Linked DNA regions of Homo sapiens: all the other regions are linked to region 1. The links come from fine-mapping of genetic effects on gene expression. A gene starts in region 1. Each other region holds a variant in brackets. All regions are shown on one strand. Distances are between the middles of the regions.

What was found. PIP is the estimated chance that this variant, and not a neighbour inherited with it, causes the effect.
Region 2: its variant is fine-mapped to the expression of POLR2C in whole blood (INTERVAL, PIP 0.98).
Region 3: its variant is fine-mapped to the expression of POLR2C in whole blood (TOPMed, PIP above 0.99).
Region 4: its variant is fine-mapped to the expression of POLR2C in whole blood (INTERVAL, PIP 0.97).
Region 5: its variant is fine-mapped to the expression of POLR2C in transverse colon (CEDAR, PIP 0.95).
Region 6: its variant is fine-mapped to the expression of POLR2C in whole blood (INTERVAL, PIP above 0.99).

The regions. Positions count from the first base shown.
Region 1 is chr16:57,460,670-57,465,669 of GRCh38, forward strand. It overlaps POLR2C (RNA polymerase II subunit C), which reads left to right and starts at 2,010. Exons shown (of 9, transcript NM_032940.3): 1 at 2,010-2,141; 2 at 2,360-2,409. The coding sequence starts at 2,056. COQ9 (coenzyme Q9) reads left to right here. Exons shown (of 9, transcript NM_020312.4): 9 at 1-601. RefSeq lists an enhancer at 1,868-2,162.
Region 2 is chr16:57,403,980-57,409,067 of GRCh38, forward strand. CCL17 (C-C motif chemokine ligand 17) reads left to right here and starts at 788. Exons shown (of 4, transcript NM_002987.3): 1 at 788-857. The variant C/T (reference allele first, on the strand shown) is at 2,360.
Region 3 is chr16:57,521,629-57,526,716 of GRCh38, forward strand. It overlaps CCDC102A (coiled-coil domain containing 102A), which reads right to left. Exons shown (of 9, transcript NM_033212.4): 3 at 4,273-4,499. Among named protein-coding and RNA genes, the nearest start is that of CCDC102A, 12 kb to the right of the region's middle. The variant A/G (reference allele first, on the strand shown) is at 3,040.
Region 4 is chr16:57,432,441-57,437,528 of GRCh38, forward strand. It overlaps CIAPIN1 (cytokine induced apoptosis inhibitor 1), which reads right to left. Exons shown (of 9, transcript NM_020313.4): 4 at 4,216-4,292; 5 at 1,604-1,772; 6 at 47-120. Among named protein-coding and RNA genes, the nearest start is that of CIAPIN1, 12 kb to the right of the region's middle. The variant C/A (reference allele first, on the strand shown) is at 2,593.
Region 5 is chr16:57,373,638-57,378,725 of GRCh38, forward strand. All of the region lies in intron 1 of CX3CL1 (C-X3-C motif chemokine ligand 1), which reads left to right. Among named protein-coding and RNA genes, the nearest start is that of CX3CL1, 3.7 kb to the left of the region's middle. RefSeq lists an enhancer at 4,954-5,088. The variant G/GTGGA (reference allele first, on the strand shown) is at 2,803.
Region 6 is chr16:57,488,591-57,493,678 of GRCh38, forward strand. No RefSeq gene overlaps it. Among named protein-coding and RNA genes, the nearest start is that of DOK4, 4.6 kb to the left of the region's middle. The variant C/A (reference allele first, on the strand shown) is at 2,531.

The DNA of each region.
Region 1 (5,000 bases):
AGATTGAAAGAGCTTTGAAAAGTATAAGGTGCCATCCACATAACCTGGTGTTCACGAGAACACACTAAAGGACTCCTGAGTCACTACCACAGCCACCTGGAAACCACAAGGCATTTGATGCTACCGTTCTGGTCAGGGATTGGGCTGCTTCTTCAGTTCCTAATACCAGACCAAGCCTCCTGATGCCTTTCTGCACTGCAACTGTGTGATTGAAAAATGAGATGTTCATCCAAGCAGTCAAGCCACAGAAACCCAGCATGTCCCTGTCACAATCTCATGGGCACCTTGATCATGTCTTAACCTTCCCTTAACCTTGGGGCTCCCAAGCCAGAGTCAAGGTCTGACGCCACCTCAAGGTGACAGCTCATCTCCAGCACAGCACAGGCGTGTGCACACAGAGGTGTTCCTTGCAGCCCCCTCCCTCTCAGGTGTCCTGAGATGCTGTTCCTGGGAGCCCCCTCAGAAAACTGCCTCACCTGAGACAAGTGCCTGCTGGACAGAGGTGTGATTCCAGGCCTGGTGTCACATGACACCAGCATGCATTGCAGGATTATTAGTGTATTTTGAGTCTGTAAAAATAATAAATATGTTTGAAGTAGTTTCCCATTGTGTAGTTAGTTTCCTTATCAATCATGATAGGTATCCAGGACCCCAGAGGGAGACAGGTTAAGTTATGGCAGCCAGGAGACCTGTGTTCTGGCGCTGCCACTGCCTAATACATAGTGGTAATTATAGTACCTCTGCGTCTCTGGGCTCAAGTCTTCCCATCAGTAAAATACGGGTAACAGAAGCCTTCCCACAGACCATCAGCTCCCTTGGCTGCTCTTGTCTGACGATTTTAGTGGTACATTCTTTAGCCCCAGTAATTTTCTCAGCCTCTACACTGGCTGGGTTCCCTTTGCACGTCTGGTTAGCTCTGTTTTCTGCTTTGCTCTCTTCTGCCTGTCAGCTGAATATTAATGGGGGAAAGTCAGCAACTAATTGAATTTCAGATCTCTTGTGGGTCTTCCACTGGATCTTTTTTGCACCTCTCAATTCCTTGTATCTCTTGACATCCTGTGAAGTTTTCGCAGTAGCTGTTCCAGTTTTCATTGCATTCTCCTTTTTCCTTCATAGCATCCATCTTACACTCAGCAGACAACCATAATTCTTAATTTACCAAGATGACACAGGTTATGGAGCAGGGTTCCATCAGTGCCCACCCTCTGTTTCAGGAAGAGGTGTCACTCTTTGCAAAGGCAAACTCCTCTTTATCTGGTTACTCTTCTCCCAACTCTTAAATGTATTTCCTGCCACGTTCTATTTTAGAGCTTTTCTCTGTTGGAGCAGCAGCCACTTTTTTTGAGGCCCATTTAAACCTCTCTCCAGTCTGTTTAGGGGACTTCAGTAGTTCTTTGTTGAGCATGCACCCCACATGGTGCCCACTGCCAGGCACTGGGGATGCAGAGACAAAGAGTTCCCACTCACCCACCACAGCTACACAGACTGTAGAGGAAGCATTAGGTTAAAGAACATTGTATCTTTTCCTGAAGTTTTCAGAAGTGCATGGTCCATACTTGAGACTGCAAGGGAAAGGGTATTTACTTATAATTCAGGTATACTTTGCTAAAATATACATTCATATTAAAATATACTTTTGTTTTTCTATAGATGTACAAGTTCTTTTTAAGTGCTTCATAGTATTCCATGTGTGTATACTCCACCAGGTCTCTTATCAATGGACAGTACAAACAGTACTACCACGAACGTCCCTGCACTCGTATCTTTGTTTACAACTGCAAGTGTTTCTGCAGTATGAATTCTTAGAAGTGTTACTGTTAAGTGAAGGACGTATGCGTGTTTTGCCAAACTACCCTCCGAGATAGCTGAATCTGGTACATTTTAAAGCAGGAGGCCGCAGAAGACGCTCGGCAGTTCTGGCCTCCGAGCAGCAGGCGGCGCTGTGAGTCGTCTTTGCGGAAGCCGCGGAGGCCTCGCTGACTGACTTCCGGTGTTGGCGGTGGCGCCGCGCAGTCACCGCGGAGCAGACGCGGAGGCTGGTGGCCCCTGGGCGAGATGCCGTACGCCAACCAGCCTACCGTGCGGATCACGGAGCTCACTGACGAGAATGTCAAGTTCATCATCGAGAACACCGACCTGGCGTAAGGCTACCGAGGGAAGAGGCTGGCGGCTCTGGGGCGCCGGGAGGCCCAAGCCGGGGCCCCGGGGCAGGGGGCGGGGGTGTAGTGGGGTGGGGTGGGGGCGATGTCCTTCCAGAGCTGCCCCCCTGCACCAGGGCTTTAGCTTTGGGAGCCTGCGGCGCGGGCCCAGCCTGTCGAGGCTGCAGCGCCTTCACGCCCCTTGGCTTTTGATCTTTCAGGGTGGCCAATTCGATTCGGAGGGTCTTCATCGCTGAGGTTCCCATAATAGGTAAGCGACTCCCCTTCCTCGTTCCCGCGCCCACGGGTTCCTGCCCCGCTCTCCACCCACACACTCTTTGGGGCTCCTTCCAGTCCTTGGTTCGGGCTGAGGGTGGTAGTGCTGAGAAAAGTGCATTGCTGGAGACTTGACCATACCCTGTGCCCTTGGCTCAGTGGCCGCCTCCCTGGCGCCCACGGGCCACTTAGGTCCACCCTTGTCCTGGGTATGCATTGCTGAGAAGCATGGGTTTAGCAGTGTGCAGACTTGGGTTCAAATACTGTTTTCACTACTATTGTTACAAAAGTTTTTAAAATGTTTTCAACTTTTATTTTGGAGTCAAGGGGTACATTGGTGCAGGTTTGTTGCCTGGGTATAGTGCGTGATGCTGAGATTTGGGGTATAAATGATCCTTTCACCCAGGTAGTGAGCATAGTACGCAATAGGTAGTTTTTCACCCCTAGCCCCACTGCCTCCCTTCCAGCTCTAGTAGTCACCAGTGTGTTTATTGTCATCTTTATGTCCGTGCGTACCCAGTTTTAGCTCCCATGCGGTGTTTGGTTTTCTGTTCCTGTGTTAATTCTCTTAGGATAATGGCTTCCAGGCCGCGCTCGCGCCTGTAATTCCAGCACTTTGGGAGGCCAAGACTGAGGAACACCTGAGGCCAGGAGTTTGAGACCAGCCTGGCCAACATGGGGAAAGCCCGCCTCTACTAAAAATGCAAAAATTAGCCAGGTGTGGTGGCTCCCACCTGTAATCCCAGCTACTGGGGAGGCTGAGGCAGAATTGATTGAACCCAGAAGGTGGAGGTTGCAGTGAGCCGAGATCATGCCACTGCACTCTGGCCTGGGCAATAGAGTGAGACTCCTTCTCAAACAAAAGAAAATAAAAAAGAAGATAGTGGCTTCCAGCCACGTCCATGTTGCTGCAGAGGACATGATTTCGTTCGTTCTTATGGCTGCATCACTTACTGCTTTTGTGAAACTTGGGCAAGTTATTAAACTTCTGTGTGCTGCAGTTTCCTCATCTGTAACATTCGGCCACTAATGATCCTTATCAGGGTAATGTTAAGGATTAAGTGAGGTAATCCATATAAGTGCTTTGTGTTTAGTGAGTGCTCAGTGCTGGTAGATGGCTTTTTTATTAATCTATTCCTTCAACAGCATTTATGGAGCATGAAAGTGGCAGGCATGGTGGTAAGCTCTGGGAATGCAAAGCTGTAGAGAACAGGGTTTTTGCCCTCATGGAGTCCACAGTGAGGTTGTAGGGGAGAGATGAATCCACAGACAACACTAAAGCAAGGTAGATTTTGATCAGTAGTTCAGGAGAAGCATAGCTGTGGTGCACTTGGCTCTTAGAGGAGGGAAGATCAATTTCTGGTCTGGTTCCAGCCACTCTGCTCCAGGTGCTTAATGCATTGATTATACTTGTATGAAATACTTCAAGCATTTCTGAGAGTCAGCTCAGAGAGTTTGGATTAGGCAAAATAAATATAAGTCATAGCTGTGGCATCAAATATTCAGACTTTTAAGGAAATAAGCAGGCCAAATGATTAGGCAAGAGAACATTGTAGTTTATCCACTACCACCACCACCCCACCCCCCCGCCCCCCAGTCACTTCTTAAATTCAGCTTGGAGTGCTGGACCTCCCCCTGCCTAAGCACTTCATGCCTCTGGACCTCAGTTTCATCAGGAGTCAGGTGAGGGAGTTGTACTTCATGATGCAGCCCTGCCATTCTGAGTCTAAATGCCTCTTTCCCAACAAATTCAGTTCTACAAATAATATTGAGCACCCATGCTAGGAATACAAAGACATCCCAGGACCTGCGTGAAGGAATTTCTGAAGCTTGAGGTATAGACATAACATACACAAATATGACACAAGGCACACTATGACAAGTGTCTTGAGGGAAGTCTGAACAGAGTTTTGTGAGAGAGGAGTTGAAAGGGAGGGAATGTCACATCTGTAGCATAGAGAGCAGGCAAGGCTTAGTTTTCAGGAGGCACAGAGGATCTTAACCTGTACAGCAAGGAGGGGAAGGGTGTGCTGGAGGGAAGGGCTGGGGGATTAAAGAGGCAGAAAAGCTTGGGTCAGGGTTCTCTCAGTTGGCTTGGACTGGGGAAGCAATGGGAAGCATAGCAGGACAGAGCAGGTGGAGGCCTGGCAGGGGGAGGTCCTCTTCCGACCGCTGTTCCTAGTGTCTGTGTCCCTCGTTTGGCAGTTGGGCTCCAGTGCCATTTGATTCCTGGATTTAGTTGGTTCCATGCAAATGTTTATGAATGAATAAATGTGTGTTTAAGTCAAGCATGTGTGATCGATAATACAGTCTTTACCCTCCTACGAGCTCATTGCTGCTAGGGATTGGGTTCTATATTTAGTATACTTTGCGCATTAAAAGAATTCAGTAAACATTTGTTGATTGAGTGTTTAAAAAGTGCTAAGTTGGGCAGTCCAGTCATTATATCCTAAAATGAGGTATGGCCCCATAAGTCTGTGTTGCTTCTGTGAGGGTTTCCCTGACTTTGAAGTGCTCAAATAGTTCATGTTCTTGGATTTAGTGGTGGCACAGGTAGCAGATTTAAGTGCTTCTCATGCAAATACT
Region 2 (5,088 bases), 57 kb before region 1:
GGAGTGAGTCCTGCAGGTATCTGGGGACAACATTCCAGGCTGAAAGAACAGTCCGTGCAAACCTCCTCAGGAAGGAGCATGTCTGTCTGGTTGGTTTGAGGCATAGGGAGGAGGCCAGGGTGGCTGGGGCAGAGTGAACCAGGGAACCAGGAGATACAGGTGGGCAGAGAGCAGGGCACAGAACTCGCGGGGCCTCGTGGCTGCTGGAGGGTCTTGGACTTGTCCTCTGCGTGAGGTGGAGAGCCACGGGGACGTTCTGAACACGGGAGATTCATGGTCCCTCTGCTGCTGTGCTGAGAATACACTGTAGGGGGCAAGGATGGAGACAGGGAGAGCACCCAGAAGGCAGTTGTAGGAAGCCAGGGATTGATGCTGGTTTCTGGGTGTATTTGGAAAGCAGAGACATGAGCTCACCCAACAGATGGGAAGTTGGGGGCGAGAGGAAGAGGCGTCAGGGATAGCGCCCAGGTTTCTGGCCCTAGTAACCGGAAGGAAGGGGCTGGCAGAGAAGGAGGAGAGAGCAGGTGTAGGGGTGGGTGGGAATCAGAAATTCAGCTTCAGACTTGGGGGGTTGGAGCTGCCTATTTGGTATGGCGAGTAGGCAGCTGGACGTAGAAGGAGGCTGGAGTTTGCGAGAGAAACTTGGGAGTGGTTGGCATATAGATGATATTTAAAGTCAGAAACGTGTACTATTTGCCAGATATAAGCAGTAAGGCAGTTGATGCAAACCAAAGCCTTCTAATGTAATTATTGTTATTATTTTCATTTTGCAGCTGTAGAAACTGAGGCTCAGAGAGAAGTGACTTTGAGCTCACAGTGTCACCGCCTGCTGATGGGAGAGCTGAATTCAAAACCAGGTGACCTGACCTAGAGTCTTTGCTCCTAACCCCTCCACTGTGAGGTGACCCCCTCGCTGGATCTTTCAGGGCATGTGTTAGATGAGCGGTGGATGGACTTTGGATCAAGGGAAGATAATCCATACAAGAAGGGGACAGGAGTTTGGAAGCAGCAAACCAAGTCACAAAGTGAGGGGACGCACTGGCCCTCAAGAAAGCTCAATGTTGGGGAGCAGGGAGATGAGACTGAATAGGAAGGAGGGGCTAGATGGAAGGTACAGCTTCAAGATTGGCCTGAAAAGTTTTGACTGGATGGGGAAGGAAGCAGGGAGCCATTGACGGTTTTGGAGGAAGGGGGCATTACATGGTCAGGGCAGCCCTTGTGAAAGATCCACCACATGTGGGCATGCAGCTGATGAGGGAGGTGTCAGGAGAGACCAGAGAGGAAGAAATAGGCCCAGAAGTTTTTGAGACTCTCTGGGTGTGAAGGATGAGGGCTGAGCCAGTGGAGATGAGAAGGAAGCAAGGAAGCCAAGCTCCCACTGAAGACAGCGCTGGGCAGAGTCTCTGCCTGATGTAATGTGGGGGATGGAGGCGAGGAATGAGTCAAGGGCAAAGTTTCAGACTTGGGGGCAGATGGGGAGATGGGAAACAATGCTGGCTTGAACAGAAAAAAAGGAGGCTGGTGTGAGAGGGAACTCGGTTTTGCCCTTCTGGTACCTGGGGCTGAGTGAACCATAGCAGGACAGACTTCTGCTTCCCAGCAGCTCACAGGTTAGTGTGGGGGACAGAACTGCACAGAGCTGGCCAGGCTGCAAGGCAGAGAGAGCTGAGGGGTGCCACAGAAAGATGGGCCGGAAGGAGGAGTGTCCAGGTGGGTGTGTCTGATTAGTTACTGGTCAGGGCTGGAGACAGAGATTTAAGAAGTATTTATCAGGCCAGGTGCGGTGGCTCACGCCTGTAATCCCAGCACTTTGGGAGGCCGAGGCAGGTGGATCACGAGATCAGGAGATCGAGACCATCCTGGCTAACACGGTGAAACCCCGTCTCTACTAAAAATACAAAAAAAAAAAAAAATTAGCCGGGCATGGTGGCGGGCGCCTGTAGTCCCAGCTACTTGGGAGGCTGAGGCAGGAGAATGGCGTGAACCCGGGAGGTGGAGCTTGCAGTAAGCCGAGATAGCGCTGCTGCAGTCCAGCCTGGGCGAAAGAGCAAGACTCCGTCTCAAAAAAAAAAAAGAAGTCTTTATCCAGAGGTAAAAGATCTGGGGTAGATGATGTCAGGGAGGAAGGGAAGGTTGCTTGAGGCAAAAACAAAGTCTAGGACAGAAGCCCAGGCTTGCTCCTGCCACCAGCTAGCTCTGTGCCCATGAAGCAGATTTATTTTGTTGTTGTTGAAATGGAATCTTGCTCTTTTGCCCAGGCTGGAGCGCAGTGCCACAGTCATGGCTCAGTCGTGCACCACCATGATTGGCTAATTTTCATTTTATTTTTTTTGTAGAGACAGAGTCTCACTATGTTGCC[C/T]AGGCTGGTCTCAGACTCCTGGGCTCAAGCGATCTTCCCACCTCAGCCTCCCAAAGTGCTGGGATTACAGTGGACCAGTTGCTTAAACTACTCTGGTCAGTTCCTAATTTTCTCATCTGTAGAAACTAATAGTTCTTACTCCCTGAAGCTGTTGTGAGGACAAAGTAAACTAATAGACTTAACTGCTGAGATTCCCCTGCCCCAACACCCACCCCAGCCTATAGTGAGAGCTCAGGGACATTTCTGAGAAGAGGAGCTCACAGGGAGCTCAGGGAAGAACCATGTCCCAAATCCCAGTGGGAGGAGCATCAAGAAGGATGGTAGGTTCCCAGGGATGACAAGGCGATTCCCTGAGCCAGCTGGAGACTAGGAACTTTATAGACTTCATCTCAGTTAGTTTTCCAGGTCATACCATGAGGGAGTGTCTTATCATCACACCCATTTCACAGATGAGAAAACTGAAGTTCATAAAATCGCTGTTAGTCACACAACCAGGAACAAGTAGAAGAGTGACTGGGACTCAGGGCTGTAGGTAATGATTCCAGAGCCTCTGCTGGTAATCACTGCCCAATGTAAGGCAGTGGGAGGTTCAGGGAGTGGCTGGAGGGGATCAAGAGGCTCAGTGAGAGCACCTTTCCTAGAGCATCAGAGCTGGAAGCCACATTGCTGAGGATTAATTAAATCACAAGTGGGCAGAGAGGAAATGGTAGAGGGAAGTACAGACCACACATCGGAGCAGTTTGGTCATGAATGAAAGGAGAAATGGGAGGGCAGCATGCGAGGGTGTTGAAGTCAAGGGGAGGTCTTTATGGAAGTGGAGAGACAGGATCATGTTGTCAGCAGAGGGAAAGGGGGTCATGGGATTGGAGACAGTAAAGAGCTAGAAGATGGCAGTGCAACTGAGGGAAGGAGGCCCCTCTGGGATGAATAAAGGTTGAGATCCAAGCCACAGTTGAAGCAATATAGGTTTGGCAAAAAATGGCCACAACCACAAGGAAGTTGTAAACTAGATGGGGGAGGAGTCAGGGTGTCCTTGGTTAGATTCCTCTGCTTTATCCATGACAGAAGGATTCGGGTGTGTCTCATGAAATGATGGTACACACTGGTTTAAAAACTATTTGGATGAAGGAGGCCCTGGGATAGAATGTGAGTTGGGCCCATGTTGTAGTTCAGAATCTCTAAGTGACCATCCATCTATCCATGCATTCATGCATGTATATATCCATTCATCATCTATCAAGCCATGCACCCATACTTCTATTCATCCATCCAACCACACATCCATCTATCTAGCCATACATCTACACATACACCCACCCATCCATCAGTCCATCCATCTGCTCACCCATCCAGTTTCATGCATCCATCCATCATCCATCAACCCATTCATCCATCCTTCCATCCATCCATCATCCATCCATCCATCCATCCACCCATTCATTCATCCATTCATGTATCCATCCATTCATCCATCCGTCTGTCCATCCATTCATTCATTCATCTACCCATCCATCCATTTATTCTTTTACCATCCATCTACACATCCATCTACCCATCCGTTCATCCATTCATCTACCCATCCATCTATCTATTTATTCTCTCACCATCCGTCCACACATCCATCTACCATCCATCCATCTATCCATCCATTCTTCCATCCATCCCTCCATCCATCCATCTACCCATCCATCCATCTATTTATTCTTTTGCCATCCATCCACACATCCATCTACCATCCATCCATCTACCCATCCATTTATCCATTCATCTACCCATCCATCTATCCATCCATTCATCTACCCATCCATCTATCTATTTATCCTTTCACCATCCATCCACCAATCCATCTATCCATCATCCATACACACATCCACCCATCCATTTATCTACCATCCATCCATCCGTCCATTCTTTCATCCACCTTCCAGCCACTCATCCATTCATCACTCACCCACACGTCCATCCATCATCCATCCTCCATCCATCCATTCACTCATTTACCCATCCATATCCATTCACCCATTCATTCATTCACCCATCCATACAACCACTCACCTATTTATACATTCAGTAAACATATATATATTTTTTGAGACAGGGTCTCACTCTGTCGCCCAGGCTGGAGTGCAGTGGTACAATCATGGCTCACTGCAGCCTCAACTTTCCTGATGTAGGTGATCCTCCCTACTCGGCCTCCAGAGTAGCTGGGACAGGTGCACACTGTAACACCTGGCTATTTTTTTTTTTCGAGATGGAGTCTCACTATATTGCCCAGGAGGGAGTGCAGTGGTGTGATCTCGGCTCACTGCAATCTCCACCTCCCGGGTTCAAGCGATTCTCCTGCCTCAGCCTCCCGAGCAGCTGGGATTACAGGCACACGCCACCACACCCAGCTAATTTTTTTTTTTTGTATTTTTAGTAGAGACAGGGTTTCACCATGTTGGCCAGGATGGTCTCGATCTCCTGACCTTGTGATCCGCCTGCCTCAGCCTCCCAAAGTGCTGGGATTACAGATGTGAGCCACTGCGCCTGGTCATTTTTTTGCATTTTTTGTAGAGACAGGGTTTCACCATGTTGCCCAGGCTTGTCTTGAACTCCTGGGCTCAAGTGATCCACCTGCCTCTGCCTCCGAAAGTATTGGAATTACAGGTGTGAGCCACCAAACTGGCCTAATAAACATATTTTATTGAGCACCCACTAAGGTGCTAAGTCCTGGAGGGATAAGTTGG
Region 3 (5,088 bases), 61 kb after region 1:
GCAGATAGAAACACTGGAAAACACTGTCCAGTGACCCGAAGAGAGGGTTCTCTCTTGCCATCGACACTGTGTGGGATCCCTACATCCTCCCATAACCCCCACCCTGCCTTGATCTTGAATAAGGCACTGTAGGTAACAAGCATGATGCCTGGCCCTGGCAGAGTAGGTGCTCACCAATGGCTGAGCTCAGCATCACCTTCCAGCACGCTGCCCTTCATGACCCCACACCACACTGGCCTCTCTCTCTGAAAGTGGAACACTCCATGCCTCCAACATGGGGTTCCCAGAGGGGACAACGTCACCCTGTAGGAGGCATGTTGAAAACCCATGGCAACATTTTTGGCTATCACAATGATTAGGGGTCATTTAGTGGACGGGGGCCAGGGTGCCTGACTCCCTGCAATGCCCTGGGCGTCCTGCCCATCAGGATGCATCCTGCATCCTACTGAATGCATGCACAGCCCACTGGACATTGCTCGGGGTAGAGATGATCTGAGCCTACAGCCTCATTCTGATTTACATTGAAACAGAAAGTAATTTTTATACTAACATACACTGAATTTTCTAGGAATGGAATCACTGTATAAACTGAAGGAAGACTGCACTTTTCTTTGTTTTTAGAGAGAGGATCTGGCTCTGTTGCTCAGGCTGGAGTGCAGATCACAGCTCACTCCCTGGAACTGCACTCCCTACCCAAGTGCAAGTGCCCAGCTCATATTGTGGGGAGGTGGTCAGGGCTCCAGAGCACTGGGCATCTCTGGGCAAGTACCTCCCTCCTGCTGTACCCCAGGCTCATCTCTTAAAGACTACCCTGTTCCTGTCTGTTCACAGCTCACTGCAACCTGGAACTCCTGGACTCAAGCGATCCTGCCACCTCGAGCTCCCAAAGTACTGGGATTATAGGCATGAGCCACGGTGCCCGGCTGCACTTTGCTTTGTTCAGAACTTTACCAAAGGCTGTTCATCTCTCAAGAAAGCGCATCGCAGTGACACCACTTGTGTCTTTGAGTTGCTAAGTCTGCACACCTGCATGAGCCGCCTTTGTAGCTGTCCTGCGAGGTGACTTAAATGTGCAGATACATGTAAGCCTTCAACACAACACCTGACTCGGAGCACATGCTATGTCTTTGCTGTTATAACTATCGTCACTATCATCCCATTTAAAGACACCCACTCTGACCACTTCACCATTTCTTCTAGAGGAGCTATGCCCAAGCACTCCCATATCACAACACGTGTATTTTAAGTTACTTTCAGGCTGGGCGCAGTGGCTTACACCTGTAATCCTAGCGCTTTGGGAGGCCAAGGCAGGTGGGCTCCCTGAGCTCAGGAGTTCGAGAGCAGCCTGGGCAACATGGTGAAAACCTGTCTCTACTAAAATACGAAGAATTAGCTGGGCGTGGTGGTGTGTGCCTGTAGTCCTAGCTACTCGGGAGGCTGACACATGAGAATTGCTTGAACCAGGGAGACAAGAGATTGTAGTGAGCTGAGATAGAGCCGCTGTACCCCAGCCTGGGCAACAGAGCGAGACTCTGTCTCCAAAAAAAAAAAAAGTTACTTTCACTTCTACTTTATATTTCAGTTAGTGCACTAGGTTGATTTTTTTGCTTGTTTGGCTTAAACAGTCTAAATTTATTCTCTCATATTTCTAGAGGCTAGAAGTCCAAGATCAAGCTGTTGGCAGGACTGGTTCTCTGAGGGCTGCGAGAAAGAATCCGTTCCATGCCTCTCTCCCAGCTTCTGGCAGTTTGCTGGCCATCTTTGGTATTCCTTGGCCAAAGATGCAACAATGTCCGCAAAAGCATCACCCTGACCTCTGCCTACATCTTCACAAAGGCATTATAGTGATTTTTTTTTTTTTTTGAGACAGCGTCTCTCTCTGTCACCTAGGCTGGAGGGTACTGGTGCATTCATACAATCACAGCTCCCTCAGCCTCGACCTCCTGGGCTCAAGCGATCCTCCCGCCTCAGCCTTCCAAGTAGCTGGGACTACAGTGGCACAGCCCCGTTCCCAGCTAATTTTTTTTTTTTTGTAGGCCAGGCACAATGGCTCATGCCTGTAATCCCAGCACTATGGGAAGCTGAGGTTGGTGGATTACCTGAGGTCAGGAGTTCGAGACCAGCCTGGCCAACATGGTAAAACTCCGTCTCTATGAAAAATACAAAAATTAGCCGGGTCTGGTGGCTAATTTTTTAGCCACCCTCTGGGTTGTCCCCTCTGGGAACCCCATGTTGGAGGCGTGGAGTGTTCCACTCTCAGAGAGAGAGGCCAGTGTGGTGTGGGGTCATGAAGGGCAGCGTGCTGGAAGGTGATGCTGAGCTCAGCCATTGGTGAGCACCTACTCTGCCAGGGCCAGGCATCATGCTTGTAACCTACAGTGCCTTATTCAAGATCAAGGCAGGGTGGGGGTTATGGGAGGATGTAGGGATCCCACACAGTGACGATGGCAAGAGAGAACCCTCTCTTCGGGTCACTGGACAGTGTTTTCCAGTGTTTCTATCTGCAGAAACATGTGTTCAGACCAAGCCTTGCAGGGAACATAGTCTACAAAACAGACAGGAGCAGGGTGGTCTTTGACAGCCCTTCGAGAAGAACAAGGTGGGCCAAGGAGTGGAGTGGCCAGTGCTGGGGCCGCCACCTCCTGGAGCCATTTTCAGATGAGCCTGAGGTGCAGCAGGAGAGAGGTACTTGTCCGGGGATGCTCAGTGCTCTGGAACCCCGACCACCTCCCCACAATGTGAGCTGGGCACTTGCACTTGGATAGGGAATGCAGTTCCAGGAGAACTACAAAGAACATGCGCCAGAGGCATGGTGGCACATGCCTGTAATCCCAGCTACTCAGGAGGCTGAGGCAGGAGAAACACTTGAACATGGGAGGCAGAGGTTACAGTGAGTCGAGACTGTGCTACTGTACTCCAGCCTGGCTGACAGAGTGAGGCTCTGTCTAAAAAAAATATATATATATATAGAGAGAGAGACAGGGTCTTGCTGTATGGCCCAGGTTGGCCACAAGCAATCCTCTTGCCTCGGAATCCCAA[A/G]GTGCTATGATTACAGACATGAGTCACTGCACCTGGCCATTATATTGATTTTTTAAAAAGGAGTGTGTAGATAGGTTATGCTATTGTCGTATTTAATTTCTGGACAGAAAAACTGCAGAATATTCATTATCATCAAGCTCGTGCCCTCTAAACTGCTCTGATCAAGGTCACTGGTGACCTCCACATTCTAAATCCAATGGTCCAGGGCTCAGCCCTGTTCTTACTGATCACTCTGTCCTCCGGGAAACGGTTTCTTGTGGTTCCCCTTCCCAGCCCGGCTCCCTTCTCTTGTCTCCTCTGCTGTTTCCCTTTCCTCTAACTGACCTCTAAACTTGGCACTTCAGGGCTGGATCCTCTGACCAGTTCCCTATCCACACTCATTCCTTGGCCCTTGTCCACGCTCATCGTTTTATTTATTTATTTATTTATTTATTTATTTATTTATTGAGACAGAGTCTTGCTCTGTCGCCCAGGATGGAGTGCAGTGGCACAATTCCGGCTCACTGCAACCTCCACCTCCCGGCTTCAAGCAATTTTCCTGCCTCAGCCTCCTGAGTAGCTGGGATTGCAGGTGTCTGCCACCACGCCTAGCTAATTTTTGCATTTTTGGTAGAGATGGGGTTTCAATTCACCATGTTGGTCAGGCAGGTCTCCAACTCCTGACCTCAAGTGATCTGCCCACCTCGGCCTCCCAAAGTGCTGGGATTACAGGCGTGAGCCACTGCGCCTGGCCCAGCTCATGGCTTTCAATATCATCTCTTCACTGGTGACTCTTGCATTTTTACCTCCAGCCCAGGCCTGTCTCATGAACTCCAGACTCATTCACATCCCCAGCTGCCTCCCTGCCATCTCAAACTCACACGTCCAAAACCAAGGTCCCAGCTGCAACCTTCCAACTTCCCTGTCTCCATTCCCTGCTTTTACCCTGCCCACAGCCCTCTCCCCCAACTAGAAAGTACGTTTCAGGAAGGCAGGGGCTTCTGTCTTATTTACGGCTGTATCCTCAGGGCAGAGCACAGTGCCTGGCCCAGAACAGGTGCCTGGTAACGTATTATTTGAATGAATAAATAAAAACTTGCACTGAGTTCTTGGGTGGAACACCACTGCTCTACAGTTCCAAGATACAGTCTAAACACTACCTGTCATCTTCGTGAGTCTAATGTTCTGTGATTCTGAGGGCGTTGTAGCACGGCCTGGCCCTGGCCCTGCCCCCTCCCGCCTCCCACGACTCACTCTCGCTCCTTGAGCAGCACCTTCTGGGACTCATCCAGCCGTAGCCGCAGGGCGGTCAACTTGGAGGCCTCCTCCTCCGTGGCAGCTGTGTCCTCCCAGGGTAGCCGGCTGCGCTCCTGGCGGCCTGAGCTGCCCCGCGGGCCCCCAGCCCCCAGGCTGCGCGCCTCCCAGCAGTCCTCAGACTCCTCTGGCATGCTCTTCAGCAGGCTCTCCACCAGCTCCAGTTCCTGCGGGGACCAAGGTGGAGGCTGGACCAGTGGCCGCCAAGCCAGGCCCTGGGTCTGAGATCAGCTTGATGGGTAACCTTGGGCAAGTCACACAGTGTCTCTGGGCCTCAGTTTCCTCTTCTGCTGCCTGCCTCTCCATCTCTGGAGAAGGAAGACACACCCTGCTCTGGGCCTCCCCTTTCACCTCCTGGAGCTGCAGAGTGTCAGCCACCATGGTTCCCTGTATCCTAGAAGATTCCCCAGGAGAGGTGGTGAGCTCCCTGTCACTGGAAGTATGCAAACCTACGGCGGGGCACCGATGGGAACAAATGTTGAAGCAGGAATTCCTATAATGGCTTAAGCCTAGATTCCTTCCAAAGGAATTCTAGCTCTAAGATCCTGTTTTTTCAGGGGCAAATAGTAAGGCATGGGGAGACTGGTGACACAGGGAAGCAGTGCCTGTGAGGAGAGCCAGCTCCCAGACAGGAAGCAGTTGAGAAATTAGGAACCCAGGGCCGAGCCCCTTTCCTTCTTGCCATCCTGCCCTTCTTCTCCGCCCCGCCCATCTCCAAGGCCTGTCTCTGACACAAACCCACAAGGACCACAGCCC
Region 4 (5,088 bases), 28 kb before region 1:
CTGGGGCCTGAAAGAAAGCAATCAAGTGACAATGCTGCCAGCTCACCATGCTGTCGTCCTCCATATCGTTGGCTGAGAGGGTCCACAGCTTGGCAGCAGCAGGGTCCACAGCAGGTTTCACTGAGTCCAAGCAATAAAAGAAAAAACTCCATAAACACAGTCAGAAACTATTAATTACAAACATACATAAATGCTTCCTGCTGTGTAGAAGAGAACACACTGGCCTGGGAGGCAGAAGATGTGGGTTCACAGTCCAGCTCTACCCCTCTGAGAGGTCTGACCTTGGGCCAACCACTTGCTGATAGTTACAGAAGTCACCATTTGCTAAGCTCTTGCTTTGCACCAGGCACCATATTAAGCACTTATATACATTATCTAACTTAATTCTGCTGACAACCTTATGAGGTAACTATCTGTCATCCTACTTTTACCGCTGAGGAAACAGGTTTAGACACTTAGGCTGGTTCCACAGGCTGCAAAGCCTGTCTGATGCTTTTAACCTCCATTCCATATTGCTTCCTCCTCGATACCTTAGTTTCCATTCTATAACATGAAGTTAAATTGTACTTCCTATGTTACTGCAGGTGTTTTGAGGATTAAATGAGAAATGTGTCAAAACCTTCAAAAATAGCAGAGCTTTAGCCTCATGTAAACCTGCTACATACAAGAAAATAGGCTCTAGAGCTGCTGGTGGCAAGGTAACACCATCAGTGGCAGACAAACCTCACACTTCCTGGTTCTCTGTCTAGTCAGGAGAATGCAAGGAAGAGGCAGAGAGCTGAGGCTCGGATGCAGTGTGGGCAAATCCTCGCAGGCCCTTGGGGTAAGAGTACCCTCTAGTGATCATTGTCACAGCTGGATGCTCATACCTTCCACAAGGCCAACTGTTCTAAGCTATTCCTACCCATTCTGGAACCATGAATCGAAAGGTTAGATTCCAAAGGATTTCTTGAAGATTTAGGTTAGACAGTCAAAACCGTACAAGTGGGAATGTACCAGTAAATATCTGTTAATGTCTGCATACCTCACAGCTGGGTCAATTCAGGCATTTAAAAATAGGGATAGGAAGGATGAGGATGGAGCTGTGTGTGTGTGTGTGTGTGCGTGCGCGTGCGTGCACGCGTGTGCTTGTACACAATTTTCTAGTCAGAAGAAATATAGTTTTATAAGTGTCTTAGCATCCTCAAAGTAAGAACAGCTGATTTTCCTGGCATGGGGAAAAAAGCACATGAGAACAGGAACAGGGCACTCTCATACACCATTACCACTACACTGTGAGGTCTTCTGAGGAGAAACGTTAATTCTGGGACCTGGAAGGACCTCATTAATTAAACTGTGTGACTCAGTCCTGTAAAATTAGGAGGCCTCGGTATCTTCTGGTGCAGAAGAAGGAGCTGAACTAGATAATACCTATGTATTATTTCAGTTTTGGATCCTAATATGCCCATGATAATAGTACATTAAGTATTCTTCTTTGTGGAAATGGCAGAAATCAAAGGACTAATCCTCTAAAAATATCACCATCTCATTTATTGCTGGCTCAATTTCTAACATGTCCCTCTAAGCCCATTCAAACAGAAGAATGTCCCTAGGCCAGCCTTACCTGAAGGAGAAGACTTCTTGGTGATGGAAAGCTTAAGCTGCCTAGAAGAACCCACTTCAAAGTTTGGTTTTTTGCCTGTGATCTGAACAAACAGCAGGTTGTCACTTTCATGACCAAGGTGTTCTCGAACAGACTGTACTTCCTCAGGGGTTAGGGGCTCCCGCTGCAGCTAGAATTCAAGACATCAAAAGGATTAGTTCACCCTCCTCTGTAAAATGGTTTACTATGTCTACCTACACAGGAGTCAAAGACTCATTTCTGTGCATTAAGGATGTAACAGTGGATGGTAACAGATAACACTTTATGCCTCACATTCAGTTTCTCACTGATCAGAACCCTAGAGTATAACCTTTGTCTGCATGTTTACTTGGAGCCTACCCCTTGGAAAATGTAAAAGTACTTAAAAAACATTAGGGATGAGGCATATACTAGTTATTTGGGATGTAATACAATTATGAAAATGAACCAGATGTGGTCCTACTGTGTAACAGGAAAGAATGCCCACAATGAAGACAGCAGAAATTTATATCCCAAAAGAAAAAGGGGGAGGAAAATCCTTTCTATGTTCCTTGGGATAAAGTAGCAGAGAGTAAAGGTAGAAAAAAAGGGTCAGGGTGCCACCTCTATGTCCAATAATTATAGACTGGTTACATAAATCACAGTCCATCTATTGTATGGAATACTATTACATCATTAATATGAATGAAGGGAAATACACTGAAGTAGGTAAGTGTCTATGATATCTAAGGGTGGGAAAAAAGGTGATTGAACAATGTATACTTATGATCTTATTTACATTTTTAAAAAAGTATGTGCATGTAGATGCTTGTAAATACATAGGAAAAGGTCTGAACGGACATACAAAAAGGCATTGGTGGCTTCCTCTGGGGAGGGAAGTGTGAGCAAGAAGTGGGATGTCACTTTATATTCTGTATGCTTTGGTGTAAAGTGAATTTTTATGAGGAGTCTGATATAGTTTGGATATGTGT[C/A]CCCTCTAAATCTCATGTTGAACTGTAATCCCCAATGTTGGAGGTGGGGCCTGGTGAGAGGTGACTGGATCATGGGGGCAGATTTCTCATGAATGGTTTAGCACCATCTGAATTCTCATGAGATGTGGTGGTTGTAAAGTATGGCACCTTCCCCACCCCGACTCTTCCTCTCTTTCTTGATCCTGCTTTTGCCATGTGATGTGCCTGCTCCTGCTTCACCTTCTGCCACGAGTAAAAGTTCATTGAGGCCTCCCTAGAAGCCAAGCAGTTGCAGGCCCGTGCTTCCTGTACAGTCTGCAGAACAGTGAGCCAATTAAACCTCTTGTCTTTATAAATTATTCAGTCTTAGGTATTCCTTTATAGGAACAGAAGAATGGCCTAATACACATTCCTTATTTTAAAATCAAGCACAGAAAACCTTAAGCTAAAAGGAAAAATAAGAAAGGGTTGGCATAAAGAATCTAAGGCCTGGCATAAAGAATCTAAGGCCTGGCTCACGCCTGTAATACCAGCACTTTGGAAGGCCAAGGTGGGTAGATCACCTGAGGTCAGGAGTTAGAGAACGGCCTGGCCAACATAGCGAAACCCCATCTGTACTAAAAATACAAAAAATTAGCCAGGTGTGGTGGCGCACGCCTGTAATCCCAGCTACTCGGGAGGCTCAGGCAGGAGAATTGCTTGAACCCAGGAGGCGGATGATGCAGTAAGCAGAGATCGTGTCACTGCACTCCAGCCTGGGCAACAGAGCGAGACTGTCTCCAAAAACAAGAAAAAAAATTAAAAAACAAAGAATTTAAGGCCCTACATTATGTAAGAAATAACAGGCACAACAGCTATCATGCTGTAACATTTACCTCTCCCACATCCAAGAAAATTTTAAGATCAAAGAGTGTAGAAATATAAATACTTCTGCTTAATTTAAACATTTCCACTGAATTGTCAGAAAAGGAACTTTGCCCTCTAACCTATTCCAGCCTCCCACCAAAAATGTGAGGCTGAACTAGATGGCAGTGTTCACCCAGGCCTAGGATTCGGGTCTACTGAGAGGTGGGTGTTGGAAGCAGCAGAGCTGCTGCTCATGCCCCTCAGCTGTCACCACCACTAAACTAGTACCAAGGAGACAAGAACAAGCCCCAGCCCACATGGGCCAAGCTGAGTCTCTTTGAAGTTGGTTATTCTCAAAAGTTTTTTTTTGTTTTGTTTTGTTTTTTTTGAGACAGAGTCTCGCTCTGTCGCCCAGGCTGGAGGGCAGTGGCGTGATCTCGGCTCACTGCAAGCTCCGCCTCTCAGGTTGACGCCATTCTCCTGCCTCAGCCTCCTGAGTGGCTGGGACTACAGGCGTCTGCCACCAGGCCCGACTAATTTTTTTGTATTTTTAGTAGAGACGGGGTTTCACTGTGTTAGCCAGGATGGTCTCGATCTCCTGAGCTCGTGATCCACCCACCTCGGCCTCCCAAAGTGCTGGGATTACAGACGTGAGCCACCACACCCGGCCGATTCTCCCAAGTTTTGTCCTTTGAAGCATCATGTATCTTACATGCACAGCATTTCTTGTTTCCTAGTTCTAAGCAATACTGATTACCTCACCTGCAGGGCAGCAAAGAAAGTTGTCTACAAACGTACCTCTTTCACTTCCACAAGACCAGAAAGAGTCAGGGCTGAACACAGCTTAGATGCTGTCTTCACTTTGCTATTGTTATCTGCCAAAAGGAAAATCCCAATTAATAGCTTTATAGTTCAAAGTAGGAAAAATAATAAAGGCTCAATCCTATATGGGTTCGCAGGCATTCAAACAATAATAACCAGGTGGGCGTGGTGGCTCATGTCTGTAATCCCAGCACTTTGGGAGGCTGAGGTGGACAGATCACTTGGGGCCAGGAGTTCAAGACCAATCTGGGGCCAACATAGCAAAATCCCGTCTCTACTAAAAATACACACAAAAAAAATAGCCAGGCGTGGTGGCACACGCCTGTAATCCCACCTACTTGGGAAGCTAAGGCACGAGAATCGCTTGAACCTGGGAGGCGGAGGTTGCAGTGAGCCGAGATTGCACCACTGCACTCTTGCCTGCACAACAGAGTGAGACTTGATCTCAAAGAAAAAACAAAAAAAAAATAATAACCTATTCTGTTTAATGTACAGATGGTCCTTGACTTAATGATGGTTCTACCTATAATTTTTCAACTTTTATGATAGTATGAAAGTAATACTCATTCAGTAGAAACTGTATACTTCAGTTTTCAGTAAATTACATGAGATACTAAGCACTTTATTATAAACAGGCTTTGTGTTAGATGATTCTGCCCAACTGTAGGCTAACGCAAGTGTCCTAAGCGTGTTTAAGGTAGGCTAGGCTAACCTAAGCAATTGTGTTTAGTAGGTTAGATGAATTACATGCATTTTCATCTTAATAGTATTTATCAGGATGTAACTCCATTGTAAGATGAGGACAATTGTATATATATTTTAGTGATATTATTTTATTATTATTATTAT
Region 5 (5,088 bases), 87 kb before region 1:
TGTGTGGGTGGGTGGGCACGTGAGAGTGGTGGAGGCAAATTCCTGCTGGCTTCCTGCTGTCTGGGCTGGGGCCCTGAAGCCTGAGGTGTCTGCGGACAGTGAGATCTGGAAAGCAGGGAGTCAGATGGCGGCTGCTTTGCCACAGTCCTGTTATGTGACCGTGAGCAGGGTCTTGCCTCCTCTGGTCCCAGTTGCTGCATCTTTAAATATAGCTATTACCTCTCCGGTGGATTGGGGGAGGGTGACGAGGTTCCAATGCCTATGGAGGTGTTTTGAAGAGGGCGGAGGAGGAGGATTACTTTTACTAAGCTGAGAGAGGGAAGGGTCCTAGGCTAGGATGGAAAGGGGACACTGGGGGACCCTGGGTGCTCAGACTAGCAGCCTGAGGCTTTAGAACCAGGCTTCTGCCCTCATCTTGGTCATTGGCTTTACTGGAAGATCCTGGGCATTATTGGAACCTTTCTCAGCCTCACTTTCTCCTCCTGTAAAACTAGGCATTTGACCAGGCTCACCTTGGAAGTCCTCTCCCACGCTGACATGTATGGCTCTGAGAGGCCCTCGGGAGCCCCTGTAGGACAAGGGGGTGGTTTGGAAGCCAGAGAGACCCCGAGAGGAGGCTGGGGGGTTCGTAGCTGCTGCCCTGACTAGTGTGGGGCAGCTGCGTCAGTCCCCAAATGTGGGTTTGTGGGGCTGTGTCAGGCAGGAGGCTTCTGTACTTTATATAACAAACCTGCAGCTACGAGTCAGTGCAGAGCATTGCCCCCCCACTCCAAGAGCTGACGCATTCACTCCCACTCAAGTCCTGGCAAGAAAGAGAAAAAAAAACGAATCTGTTTTAAGCTCCTATAGCCTACCCGCCTCATTAGCAGTGGGGGTGGATGGGGAGGGCATGGGAGGATAAATTCAAGAGTGTCAGATCCAGGCCCCTGTCTAATTTAAATAAAAATTCCTCCATTTTTCTGTTGGTTAAGGTATTATGCCACAAAGCGCTTCCTTAGGCATTTTGTCCATTCATTCAACAAATAGTTATTGGACACCTACTGTGTGACAAACCTGGTTCTAGGTACTGGGGCGGCATCAATAAATAAAACAGCCAAGGACCTCAGCCCTCGAGGTGCTGTAATTCAACTGCAGAGGACACATAACACACAAAGTAAATCAGTAAACAATGTGGTCTGTTGGAAGGAGAAAAGGCACTGTGATAAAAAAATAGAGAGGGGTGGCTGGGCGCAGGGGCTCATGCCTGTAATCCCAGCACATTGGGAGGCCAAGGCGGGCAGATCACCTGACGTCAGGAGTTCAAGACCAGCCTGGCCAACATCATGAAACCCTGTCTCTACTAAAAATATAAAATTAGCTGGGTGTGGTGGTGCATGCCTGTAGTCCCAGCTACTTGGGAGGCTGAGGCAAGAGAATCGCTTGAACCTGGGAGGCAGAGGTTGGAGTGAGCCGAGATCGTGTCACTGCACTCCAGCCTGGGTGACAGAGTGAGAGTCCATTTAAAAAAAAAAAAAAGAAAGAAAAGAAAAGAAAAAGAAAAATAGAGAGGGGAGAAGAGAGGTGTTGACATTTTAAATAGGGGGTTAGGGAAGCCCACTGAGTAGGTGGCTTTGCACAGTTTGGAGCGGGGTGAGGGCGGGAGCCATGTGGATATCTCTAGAGCAATGGTCCTCAGTGAGTAATTTTGCTCCCCTATGGGCCATTTGGCAATTTCTAGAGAAATTTTTTACTTGTTACAAATATCCCAATGTTTTTGGTTCAGTTGAGCTACTCGCCTCTAGTGTGTAGAGGCCAGAGATGCTGCCAAACCTCCTATAGTACCCGGGACAGCCCCCAAAACAAAGAATTGTCTGGTCCAAAATGTCAGTAGTGTCACTGTTGAGAAACCTTGCCCTAAGGGAAAAATGCTCCAGAAGTTAAAAAATTCTTATTCTCACAACCACACTGTGAAGCAGGTATTGTCACATCCATTTTACAAGTAAGGAAACTGAGGCTCAGGGAGTCCGAGTGACTTGCTCAGGACACACAGCTGGGCAATGGCTCAAGCCCTCCCTTTATCACCTCATCCAGCAACCCAGGACATTTCCTGAGTCTCCTTCTAAGACCCTGGAAGACTCTTAGAAGTCCTTGAGGTCCAGCCTAAAGGAGAATTCCTCCAAGAAGCCTCCCCTGACCATTTGAAGTTGGAAGTGGTCTCTCCCTCATGTAAACCCCAATATGTTTGTGGTATGTTCTGGAACACTGTGTTTCTACCTGGCATCTAGGGTAGCCTAGAACAGTGGGGTGTTTAGGGGCTGAGTAGAAAACTAGCTCTGCCACCATGCAGCTGTGTGGCACTGGGCACATTTAGCCTCTCTTATTTCCAGCTTCTGCATCTGTAAAGTTGGGATAATACTCCCTTTGCAGGAATGTTGGGAATTAAAGAGAGCAGATGTGTACATGCTGGACACAGGGTCCAATACACAGTAGGTGTTCAATTAAAAAAAATAAATAAAACCTCTGATACTTTGTGTGCCTAATTTACCTGTCCATCAGGCTGGGAGCCTTCTGAGGCCAGAGGCATTCCTTGTTCATCTCACTGTACCTCACAGCACCCAGCACAGGGCCTGGCAAGAGGAACCAGCATTTGTTGGTTGACTGAATAAACAGAGTGATCTGATGGCATTTATTGGGATGGAAGCACTCTCTTCAAACTCAGCACCAGTGCCTATGGGAGAAAGAGCTCAAGGTTAAGGATAAGAGGGCCTGAGATTTTTGTATATACTCAAAAGTAATTCCAGCCAGTGTTGGCTGAATCAGGAA[G/GTGGA]TGGATGGATGGATGGATGGATGGATGGATGGATGGATGGATGGATGGATGGGTGGATAGATGGATGAATGGATGGATGGATGGATGGGTGGATGGATGGACAGATGGATGGATGGAAGAAGGGATGGGGAGGGGATGATGAGGGATGGATGAGTAGGTGAGATAAAAGGGGGCGGAAGATTGACAGGTGGTAGGTAGGGGAGAGGGAGTGGGTAGATGGATGAATGGAGATGAATAGGGGTTGGGCAGGAGGTGGCAGGTGGGCGAGGAATGGGTAGAAGATTGATAAGAGTGGGTGGACGGGTGGATGGATAGGTAGATAGATGCATTAAAGAGAGATAAGTAAACTGAGACTAATTTCATTCAATGAATATTGATTGAGTATCCACCTTGTGCTTGATGCTGGGAAACTATGATACCAAGACAGACAAGGTCCCTGCCTTCCTGACACTCCTATGACAGATAATATATGACTGGCTGGATGAGGCATTGTCTCCATTTACAGAAAGGAAAATTTCAGCTCTGAGAAGGGACAGGCTCCCCAGGTCAGTTAAACAATCTTCCTGGCAGAACCAAGAACTGAGCCGGGCCAGGACCATTCAGGGACCGTGGCAGAGGGTGGGGACTTTGGAGACAGGATGACTCTGTGGCTCTTTAAAGCCCTGGAGGTGGGCAATGGCTTTTCCCATCTTGGATTTGGGGAGCACAGAATGGACCTTCTTTCCTATCCATTGGGCAGCCTCCCTTGCCTCCTCCTGTCTCTGGTCACTCAGGGGCACCGTATTTTCTGGGGCTTCCCAAAGAAGACACCTGCAGGCCATTTTAGGGGACTGCCACCTGGCTCCACTCAATAGGGCCTGGGGAGGCTGCAGGTGAGTCAGTCTGAGGTTCCATTGCAGAAGGAGGGTGGCCAGCCCACACAGTGACTTTTATATCCTGGTTACTCAGAGAGAAAGGACAGCCCTGTGACCTGGGGAGCCCCTCCTGCACACAGCCCCCAACCCCCTGAAGCTACTAGTGCTTCTCCTTGATGACTCAACCCAGACCTGCCGGCCCTAAACCACCTTCCCACAAAGCAGGGTGGGCCAAAGCTAAGGGGGAGCGATGGAGAGAGGAAGCAGCAGACTCTACAAAGTCTCTCTGTGTGTGCAAGCGTGCATGTGCCTGTATTTGGGAAAGTGGTGTATGTTTGCATGGCCACATATATGTAAATATTTATGCATGAGCAGTTCGTGTTCTGGTGGAGCCCAGGGATGCCCTGGGGGTTTCCCAGGCTCTGAAGGGCTAGATAAGATCAGCTTGCTCTCTTGACTGCCCTGGTCTCCAGATGTTTGCAAAACCCTCTGGGGTCTTGCTTTTGCTGCATATAACCTTGACTCAGATCTGAAACTCAAGCTCTTCCTTGTTTTTTATACTCATCCTCCTTGAGCTCAAGCTAAGCAGAAGAAAATTTGCTGGAGATTATAGAGGAAGAGAAAAGGTGGAAATTCAATGTAAACAACTTCAAATGTTTATATCAAATAGTTGGGTTTATTTGTCCTGTCCCGGGGTTTCTCTCTGGTTCCACGTGACACTCAGCTACTGCCTGCCCCTTCCGCCCCACTCTGCCCCCACCTTATTCATACCGTCCATCTCCAACCCTCCTCCTTACTCTTCTTGCTCCAGGAATTTCAAATGCCTCTTCCCTCCTAGGCAGGATGACTCAGTACCTTTCAGCAACTGCTCTCGGGCTCATTCTGGCTCTCAGCAGCAGAACAAAGGATCATCTATTCAGCAGACCCCACCTTCCTTAGAAAGCAGTTGTACTTATATATTTTTTAAAAAGTTTATTGCTGGGCATAGTGGCTTACATCTGTAATCCCAGCTATTCCGGAGGTTGAAGTGGGAGAATCACTTGCGGTCGGGGTTCAAGACCAGCCTGGGCAACATAGCAAGACCCTGTCTCTTAAAAAAATTAGCCAGGCATGGTAGCAGGCACCTGTAGTCCCAGCTACTTGGGAGGCTGAGGCAAGAGATCTCTTTTTTTTTTTTCTTTTTTTTTTGAGACGGAGTCTTGTTCTGTCACCCAGGCTTTAGTGCAGTGGTATGATCTCAGCTCACTGCAACCTCTGCCTCCCGGATTCAAGCAATTCTCCTGTCTCAGCTTCCCGAGTAGCTGGGACTAAAGGTGCACACCATCATGCCAGGCTAATTTGTGTATTTGTAGTAGAGACAAGGTTTCACCATATTGATCAGGCTGGTCTCAAACTCCTGACCTCAGATGATCTATCTGTCTCGGCCTCCCAA
Region 6 (5,088 bases), 28 kb after region 1:
TTTTGCCTGTGGATGTCTGATTGTTCTAGCTCTATTTGGTGAAAAGACTCTCATTGAATTGCTTTTGCAACTTCGTAAAAAATCAGTTGGACATATTTCTGGATTCTCTGTTCTATTTCACTGATCTGCATGTCTATCTCTCTGTTAATAACAGTCTTGATTACTATGCCTATATAGTAAGTCTTAAGGCCAGGAGCAGTGGCTCATGCCTATAATGCCAGTACTTTGGGAGGCCAAGGCGGATGGATTACTGGAGGTCAGGAGTTCAAGACCAGCCTGGCCAACATGGTGAAACCCCATCTCTACTAAAAATACAAAATTAGCTGGGTGTGGTGGCGTGTGCTCGGGAGGCTGAGGCAGGAGAATCGCTTGAACCTGGGAGGCAGAGGTTGCAGTGAGCCAAGATCGCGCCATTGCACTCCAGCCTGGGCAAAAAGAGTGGAACTCTGTCTCAAAAAAAAAAGTCTTAAAATCAGGTAGACCAGTGGTCCCCAACTTTTTGGCACCACAGACAGTTTCATAGAAGATAATTTTTCCATGGATGTTGTGGGAGTGTTTTCAGCATGATTCAAGCACAATACCTTTATTGTGCACTTTATTTCTATTATGATTACATTGTAATATATAATTAAATAATTACACAACTCACCATAATGTAGAATCAGCGGGAGCCCTGAGCTTGTTTTCCTGCAATTAGACAGTCCCATCTGGGGGTGATGGGAGACAGTGACAGATCATCAGGCATTAGATTCTCATAAAGAGCCTATGACCTAGATCCCTCGCATGCACAGTTCACAATAGGGTTTTGTTCCTATGAGAATCTAATGCTGCTGCTGGTCTGACAGGAGGCGGAGCTCAGGTGGTAATGTGAACAATGAGGAGCGGCTGTAAATACAGATGAAGCTTCATTCATAGCTGCTCACCTCCTGCTGTGCAGCCAGGTTCCTAACAGACCACAACCAGTACCGGTCTGTGGCCCAGGGATTGGGGACCTCTGAGGTAGATTGTTATTAATTCCTCCCAAGTTATTGGTTTGTTTGTTTGCCACAAGGTTTCACTCTGTCCCCCAAGCTGGTGTGCAGTGGCATGATCATAGCTCACTGCAGCCTTGAGTGCCTGGGCTCAAGGAATCTTCCACCCTCAACCTCCTGAGTAGCTGAGACCACCATGCCCAAGTAATTTTTTAAATTATTGTGTAGAGATGGAGTTCTTACTATGTTGCCCAGGTTGGTCTCAATCTCCTGGCCTTAAGTGATCCTACCAGCTTGGCCTCCCAAGTGTTGGGATTACAGGCATGAGCCAATGCGCCCAGCCCCAACTTACTCTTTTTCAAAATTGTTTCAGCTGTCCTGGTAATATTCTCTATCTTTCTATGTAAATTTTAGAATAATGTTATCTATATCTACAGAATATCTTGCTGGGATTCTGATAGAAATTACATTAAACCTGTATATCAATTGGGGAGCATTGACATTTTTACTATGCTGAGTCTTCCAATTCAAGAACACAGTATGTCTCTCCATTTATTTATTTATTTCTAATGTCTTTCATCAGCATTATGGAGTTTTCAGCATACAGGTCCTATACACATTTTGTTAGCTTTCCACCTAATTATTTTATTTACTTATTTTTGGTGATTTTAAATGGTATTGCATTTTTAATTTTGCTGCCCATGAATGAGTTCATTGCTGGTATATGGAAATAATTTTTGTATAATTATATTTTGCAACCTTGCTGAACATATTAGTTCTAGGAGGTTTTTGTCTTTTTTTTTTTGGTAGATTCTTTGAGATTTTCTACATAGATAATCATGTCATCTGCATGTAGAAAAGGTTTTTTTCCTCTTTTTCTACCTATTTGTTAGTGGTTTATCACATTGGCTAAAATGTTCAGCACTATGTTGTAGTATGAGCTGACATCCTTACCCTGTTGCTGATCTTCGGGGAGAGCATTCAATTTTTCATCATTAAGGACCAACGTTAGCTGTAGGTTTTTTGTAGATGCTCTTTATCAAATTGTGGAAGTCCTCCTCTCTTATTTTTTGAGAGCTTTTTACCATTAATGAACGTTTAATTTAGTCAAATGCTTTTCTATACTAATATATGATTTTTCATCTTTAGCCTGTTTTTTTGTTTGTTTGTTTGTTAGTTTTTTTCCTTGAGACAGAGTCTTGCTCTCTTGCCCAGGCTGGAGTGCAATGGCACCATCTCTGCTCACTGCAACCTCCGCCTCCCAGGTTCGAGCGATTCTCCTGCCTCAGCCTCCTAAGTAGCTGGGATTACAGGTGCCTGCCACCACACCCGGCTAATTTTTGTATTTTTAGTAGAGACAGGGTTTCACCATGTTAGCCAGGCTGGTCTTGAACTCCTGACCTCAGGTGATCCACCCACCTCGGCCTCCCAAAATGCTGGGATTACAGGTGTGAGCCACTGCGCTGCACCTGGCCAGTTTTCTTGTCTTTCTTTTTGTGCTACCTTTATCTGGTTTTAGTATCAGGGTACTGATTTTATAGAATGAATTGAACAGAATT[C/A]ACTCCTATTTTCTGAAAACAATTTTGTAGAATTAGTATTATTTTTTTAAATGTTTGGTATAATTCTTCAACAAAAACATCTGAGTCTGGAGTTTTAAAATTATAACAATAATAATTTTTTTAAATAAAATGAGATGGGGGCTCTCGTGATGTTGCCCAGGCTGATCTCAAACTCCTAGGCTCGAGTGAACCTGCTGCCTTGGCTTCCCAAAGATATTTCTTTTTTGGGAGTTTTAAAATTTAAAATCTAATTTCCTTAATTGTTACAAGACTACTCAAATGAACTATTTCATGTTAAATGAATTGTAACAGTTTGTGTCTTTGGGGGAAGTAGTTATTTCATCTAAGTTGTCAACTTTACAATAATAATAAACATTACCTTATTATTATTATTATTGATGTCTTCAGGTTTTATAGCAATATTCCTTATTTCACTTCTGATGTAGGTATTTGTGTCTTCTCTGACATTTTTACTCTGTCAGTCTTGCTGGAGGTTTGTCAATTTTATTGATCTGTTCAAAAAAACCAAATCTTTGTTCCACTAATTCTCTCTCTCTCCCTCTCTCTCTCTTTCTCTCTCTCTCATTTTAGATTTCATTGATTTCTGCTCTTATCTTTATTATTCCCTTACTTCTGCTGGTTTTGAATTTATTTTGCTGTTTTTTTCTAGGTCTTTAAGGTGTCAGTCTATCAAGTTTAGATGATATAGAGTTCAGATGACAGATATAAGACTTTTCCTCTTTTCTAAGGTGAAATAAATGTCCATATTAGTGCTGCTTTAGGTGTATTCCACAAATTTTGATATGTTTTACTTTCGCTGTCATTCAGTTCAATGTATCTTTTAAAAAATTCCCTTGAAACGTTCTCTTTATCCATGGATCATTCAGAAGCGTACTGTTTAATTTCTAAGTATTTGGATAATTTCCTGTTCTCTTTGTGTTACTGATTTCTAGTTTGATTCCATTGTAGCCAGAAAAAAACACTCTGTAAGATTTCAATTCTTTTAAACTTGTTGAAGTTTGTTTTATGGCCAGGACATGGTCTATCTTGGTATATGTTCATGAGCACTTGAAAACAAGGTGTGGGCCCGGTGTGGTGGCTCACGCCTGTAATCCCAGCACTTTGGGAGGCTGAGGCGGGTGGATCACTTGAGGCCAGGAGTTTGAGACCAGCCTGGACAGTACGGTGAAACCCCATCTCTACTAAAAATACAAAAATTAGCCAGATGCGCTTGCTTGGACCCAGGAGGCGGAGGTTGCAGTGAGCCAAGATTGTGCCACTGCACTCCAGCATGGGCGACAGAGCAAGACTCTGTCTCAAAAAAGAAAAAAAAGAAAACACGGTATGTTCTGCTGTTCTGAGGTAGAGTGTTCTAAAAATATCAGTTAGATCCTGTTGGCTGATGCTGTGGTTAAGTTCTGCATCTTTTCTGATTTTATATCTAGTTGTACTATCAATAGCTGGAAAGAGGTGTTGCTATCTCCAACTATAAGTGTGGATTTGTCCATTTCTCCTTTCACTTCTATCAGTTTTTGTTTTGCATATTTTGTAGTTCTCTTGCTTGGTGCATGTGTATTAAGGATTTCTTTTCTTTTCTTCTTCTTTTTTTTTTTTTTTTTTTTTTTGATATGGAATCTTGCTCTGTCGCCTAGGTTGGAGTGCAGTGGTGCGATCTCGGCTCACTGCAATCTCCGCTTCCCGGGTTGAAGTGATTCTTCTGCCTCAACCTCCTGAGTAGCGGGGACTACAGGGGTGTGCCACCACACCTGGCTAATTTTTGTATTTTTTGTAGAGATGGGGTTTCACCATATTGGCCAGGCCAGTCTCGAAATCCTGATCTTGTGATCTGCCTGCCTCGCCCTGCCAAAGTGCTGGGATTACAGGCGTGAGCCACCATGCCCGGCCCTGTATTAAGGATTTCTATATCTTCTTGATAGATTGACACTTTTACTATTATATACCGTCCCTCTCTGTCTCTGGTAGTTTTCTTTGCTCTAGAGTCTACTGTGATGGTTAATTTTGTGTTAAGGGATACCAAGATAGGTGGAAAAGCATTATTTCTTTCTTTTCTTTTCTTTCTTCTTTTTATTTTTATTTTTTGCTAATTTATTTTTTTTGAGACAGAGTCTCGCTCCGTTTCTCAGGCTGGAGTGCAGTGGCGCGATCTCGGCTCACTGCAAGCTCCGCCTCCCAGGTTCACGCCAATCTCTCGCCTCAGCCTCCTGAGTAGCTGGGACTACAGGCACCCGCCATCACGCCCGGCTAATTTTTTATTTTATTTTATTTTATTTTTTGTATTTTCAGTAGAGACGGGGTTTCACCGTGTTAGACAAGATGGTCTCGATCTCCTGACCTCATGATCCACCCGCCTCGGCCTCCCAAAGTGCTGGGATTACAGGCGTGAGCCACCGCGCCCGGCCTCTTTTCTTTTCTTTTTAGATGGAGTCTCGCTCTGTTGCCCAGGCTGGAGTGCAGTGGCGTGATCTCGGCTCATTGCAAACTCTGCCTCCGGGTTCAAGGGATTCTCCCACCTCGGCCTCTGGGTAGCTGAAATTACA